Linked DNA regions of Homo sapiens: region 2 is linked to region 1. Evidence: fine-mapped expression QTL. Tissue or cell type: kidney cortex. Region 1 holds a variant in brackets; the other region holds the start of a gene. All regions are shown on one strand. Distances are from middle to middle.

What was found. PIP is the estimated chance that this variant, and not a neighbour inherited with it, causes the effect.
Region 2: it holds the start of LINC01226, and the variant in region 1 is the best candidate, but not a certain one, in a credible set for the expression of LINC01226 in kidney cortex (GTEx, PIP 0.76).

Annotation. Positions count from the first base shown.
Region 1 is chr1:31,470,709-31,473,466 of GRCh38, reverse strand. LOC124903900 (a long non-coding RNA gene) reads left to right here and starts at 1,991. Exons shown (of 2, transcript XR_007065585.1): 1 at 1,991-2,401. It overlaps LOC105379772 (a long non-coding RNA gene), which reads right to left and starts at 2,349. Exons shown (of 3, transcript XR_001737618.2): 1 at 2,233-2,349. RefSeq lists an enhancer at 1,506-2,705. The variant T/C (reference allele first, on the strand shown) is at 1,377.
Region 2 is chr1:31,517,314-31,520,071 of GRCh38, reverse strand. LINC01226 (long intergenic non-protein coding RNA 1226) reads right to left here and starts at 1,637. Exons shown (of 3, transcript NR_027085.1): 1 at 1,236-1,637.

The DNA of each region.
Region 1 (2,758 bases):
GCCTAGATTTCAGAAGATGTATGGAAACGCCTGGATGCCCAAGCACAAGTTTGCAGCAGAGGCAGGGCCCTCATGGAGAACATCTGCTAGGGCAGTGCCAAAGGGAAATGTGGGGTCGGAGCCCCCACACAGAGTTCCTACTGGGACACTGCCTAGTGGAGCTGTGAGAAGAGGGCCACTGTCCTCCAGACCCCAAATGGTACATCCATGAATAGCTTACACTATGTGCCTGGAAAAGCTGCAGACACTCAATGCTAGCCCATGAAAGCAGCTGGGAGGGTGGTTGTAACTTACAAAGCCACAGGGGTGGAGCTGCCCAAGACGATGGGAACCCATCTTTTGCATCACTCTGACCTGGATGTGAGACCTGAAGTCAAAGGAGATCATTTTGGAGCTTTAAAATTTGACTGGCCCACTGGATTTCAGATTTGCATGGGCCCTTTAACCCCTTTGTTTTGGCCAATTTCTCCCATTTGGAACAGTTATATTTACCCAATACCTATACCCACATTGTATCTAGGAAGCGACTAGCTTGTTTTTTATTTTACAGGCTCATAGGCAGAAGGGACTTGCCTTGTCTCAGATGAGACTTTGTACCATGGACTTTTGGGTTAATGCTGAAATGAGCTAAGGCTTTGGGGGACTGTTGGGAAGGCATGATTGGTTTTGAAATGTGAGGACATGAGATTTGGAGGGGCCAGAAGCAGAATGATATGGTTTGGCTGTGACTCTACCCAAATCTAAACTTGAATTGCATCTCCCAGAATTCTCACATGTTTTGGGAGGGACCCTGGGGGAGGTAATCAAATCACAGGGGCCGGTCTTTCCTGTGCTGTTCTCATGAAAGTGAATAAGTCTCACGAGATCTGATGGGTTTGTCAGGGGTTTCCCTTTTTGCTTCTTCCTCATTTTTTCTCTTGCCGTCGCCATGTAAGAAGTGCTTTTTGCCACCACCCATGATTCTGAGGCCTCCCCAGCCATGTGGAACTGTGTAAGTCCAATTAAACCTCTCTTTATTCCCAGTTTCAGGTGTGTCTTTATCAGCAGCATGAAAACAAACTAATACAGCAGTGCTAAGAGAAAAGTTCATAGCCCTAAATGCCTACATCAAAAAGCCTGAAAGAGCACAAACAGACAATCTAGGGTCACACCTCAAGGAACTAGAGAAACAAGAACAAACCAAATCCAAATCCAGCAGAAGAAAGGAAATAACCAAGATCAGAGCAGAACTAAATGAAATTTAAATAACAACAACAAAATACAAAAGATAAAACAAAAACTGGTTCTTTGAAAATATAAATAAAATTGATAGACCATTAGCAAGATTAACCAAGAAAAGAAGAGAAAAATCCAAATAAGCTCAATTAGAAACAAAA[T/C]AGGAGGTATTACAACCAACACCACAGAAATACAAAAACTCATTCAAGGCTACTATGAACACCTTTACACACATAAACTAGAAAACCTAGCAGAGATGCATAAATTCCTGGAAAGATACAACCCTCCTGGCTTAAATCAGGAAGAACTAGATATTCTTGTTAAAGATCGTGAACTCCAAGTTTCTTTTCAAAGAATCACTATGTCAGTATGTTCAGCTCTCTTTATTCTCCATTTTAAAGTCTAACTTCCTGGTTCTATTGCCCCGCTTGCCTCTAGTTTCAGTAAACAAGTTTCCTGCCAGTTCTAATCAGTAGTTCACATCTGTTCCCCTGGTCACCTGCTTTGTCCTGAGTCACCCCTGGTCACCTGCTCCATCTTGAGTCACCCCTGTCACCTGCTCTGACCTGAATCATCCTGAGTCAACTGTTCTGTAACCACCCCTCCCGCCAAACTTCTCACCCTGTCACTCCAGCTTGTACCCCTGCTCTCTTTAAAATAGCCAATCGGAATTAGCTTACACTGTGCGGTCCAATCCTAGCCAATAGGGGAATGACACAACAGCAGGGACTACCTGCACCAGGAATACGAACCGCTTCCCTCCCCTTGTTCAGGTGTGCTTTCGCCATTACTCCAACCACGAGTCGCACCCTTCTATAGAAGTAAAAATTACCTGGCTGAGAAAATTAAATTTATGTTCAAGTGCTATTTCTCTGCAGCACCAAGGAACAGGCATTTGTTTCTAACAATCTCGTGGCCCATATGGGGAGCTATTCTCCTCTAGGGGTGGCCTCTATTCCTCTCTCACGCCCCACTGCCTTGTTGCGGTGGCCTCAAGAGTCAGGAATCGAGACTCACCTGGTGTGACAAATAAACCTGGACTCAGCAATGTCGAAAGAAACCAGCCGGCGACCCAGGGGAAAGGATCCTCACACACCACAGTGACCAGGCAACTCTGTGCACAGACCGAGGAAGGAAACGCCTGGGAGCCAGCAAAGTATTTCCTTGGTGGTTGGGACAGACCAAGGTAAGAGAAGCCACAGGGGGTGGTGGTATTCCTTGATCAGGACATATCAAGGTAAGAAAAGACACGGAGGAGGTGGGGCGGTGAAGTATTCCCTGGTTGGGGTATCTTGAGGGTTAAAAATAGGCAAGACATTTCTAGCAAGGGGAATTGAGCCTCACACTAAAAATGGGAAATACCCCAAGTAAGGTAAGGGATAAAAAGGATACACTAGCAATGATAATATTCCCCCTAATAATCCGCTCAGCCTAATGATAAAATATTAGAAGGGTAATGAAAGGACCAAAAACAAGAAAAAGCAGCTGCTGTCCCAGACCCTTCTCCTATCCCTGTTGTCCCTCTCCTTATAATTCTGCCTCT
Region 2 (2,758 bases), 47 kb before region 1:
TGGGTTGTGACTAAGAAAGCTCATTTCTTGTTCCCATCACAGTCCCATTCTTCCCCAAGTCACAGGAAGGAATTAGCTCCATGTAGTCATTCAGGGACCCAGGCAACTTCCTTCATGAGGTCTTGCCATCTCCTAGGGTATTGAAGTACCCTACTTCTAGCCAGCAGATGAAAAAGAGCAGGAGAAGAAAAGAAGATACAGAAAGAAAATAAAAGTTACTGGGCACCGTTGGGGAAGTTGGGGCACCAACTTATTACTCTAAAAATTGTTAATTAAAGGAAAAGAATTAAGCATTTTTTATGCCTAACTGCATTTTCTGGTAATTAAATAGCCAAAATGAATGAAGGAAAGCTCTTCTATGCAGAAGAATTTCAGCTACTACATGAAGAAAAAATTAGAATCAGAAAATTATCATTTTTTAAGCCCCTAAGAAAATAACTGATTCAAGCAATGGTTTTCAATGGATGCCAAAATCACTCAGTGAAAGGTTGATGGAGAACTTCTCAGTGAAGGGTAAGGTTGCCATTGCCTGAACCTAAAGATAGATCTTAGCATCATTAAAAGCAAGACCAGCAGACATCATATGCCTCCAGGTGTGATGCACTGGAGACTTACAAGGTATCCCATGAAGTATAAAGAAGCAAGTGACTGTATCCCTAGTGTAAAAACTCTACATGAGAATTGACACAGTTTCTTCAGGAAGTCAATAGCACTGAGAACAAATATAGGAAGAGGAATTAATTTATGTTAAAAGAGAGTTAGAGGCTGGGCACAGTGGCTCATGCCTGTAATCCCAGCGATTTGGGAGGCTAAGGCAGCCAGATCACTTGAAGTCAGGAGTTTGAGACCAGCCTGGCCAACACGGTGAAACCCTATCTCTATTAAAAACACAAAAATTAGCCAGGCGTGGTGGCCCACACCTGCAGTCCCAGCTACTCAGGAGGCTAAGGCGCGAGAATCGGCTGAACTGGGGAGATGGAGGTTGCAGTGAGCCAAGATCACACCACTGCACTCCAGTCTGGGTGACAGAGCGAGACTCCATCTCAAATAATAATAATGATTTTTAAAAAGTCAACTAATAACATAAGGTGATGAGTCTGGAAAGGATGGCAAGAAAGCACACTTCATAAATATGAAGGAAAATGAAGAAAACACTTGTGTTAGGGTTCTCTAGATGGACAGAACTAATAGGATATATATATATATATAAGGGAGTTTATTAAGTATTAACTTACATGATCACAAGGTCCCACAATAGGCTGTCTGCAAGCTTGAGGAGCAAGGAGAGCCAGTCCAAGTCTCAAAACTGAAGAACTTGGAGTCTGATGTTCAAGGGCAGGAAGCATCCAGCATGGGAGAAAGATGTAGGCTGGGAGGCTAGGCCAGTCTTGCCTTTTCACCTTTTTCTTCCTGCTGTATATTCGCTGGCAGCTGATTAGATGGTGCCCACCAGATTAAGGGTGGGTCTGCCTTCTCCAGCCCGCTGACCCAAATGTTAATCTTCTTTGGCAACACCCTCACAGACACACCCAGGATCAATACTTTGCATCTTTAATCCAATCAAGTTGACACTCAGTATTAACCATGGTAAGTCCACCCCTTGTCAAGCTGAACCCATACACATCTCCTGAGATCATACATAATCTTCAAATAAAGACAATAATAAGGTCATAATTATGCCTAAAATAATACAACTATCCTTGGTACAACTGGAAACCCACCAATCCCCAACCCAAATATTATTACATAAAGTTAATAATACTTAAATGTTGATATGAAGTCAGTAAATCTTATGTCACATGATAAAGGAAAAGGAAATAAAATGGATATATTTTCTTCGTACAAGTGTATACATGCACAAACATGTTTTTAGCCAAAGAAGGAGGAAATACTCATGATAGTTACAGTCCGCATTTCTGCAGCTGGTCACATGGTCATAGGTGGTATTGATGATTACCTTCTTCTACTACCCATTCTGTATTCCCTTTGCCTTCAGCAAGCACCTCAGCAGGTTGTGGTTTTTTTCCTGGTGGAGTGACCCAAACCTTCATTCCTGAGGGGTCTGGGCTATTTGTAGTCCTGCCTGGATTGCGCTATTGTAGTTTCCCATTGACCTTAATCAAAGGGCATGGTAATACTAAGAGATGCTCTAAAGGATGTCCTGTATTCCATGCATACTCTTCCTTACCTCTGTTATGGAGTAGTAGACTGATTTTATCTTGATAGTTCACCTTCCCACTCCATCTCCCTTCTGGCTCCCCCATCTGCTGAGAGCTACTTCCACTCAATAAAAACTTGCACTCGGTCCCTAAGCCCACGTGTGATCTGATTCCTCCAGTACACCAAGGCAAAAACCCTGGGATACAGAAAGCCCTCTGTCCTTGTGATAAGGCAGAGGATCTAATCGAGCTGATTAACACAAGCTGCCTACAGATAGCAAAACTAAAAGAGCGCTCTGTAACACACACCCATTGGGGCTTCAGGAACTGTAAGCATTCACCCCTAGACACTGCCGTGGGGTTGAAGCCCCACAACCTGCCCATCTGCATGCTCCCCCTAGAGGTTTGAGCAGCAGGGTACCAAAGAAGCGAGCCACACCCCCATTGCAGGCCCTGCGAGGGGGATAAGGGAACTTTTCCCATTTCACTTGTGCTGTGATTCAGTTCCCTGGGTGACTCTGCAGGGAGGCTGGAGGGAGAGAGTTCTCCCAGAGGGACCATCCCACACCCACTTCCACCTAAGAACACCCCAGTGGGGC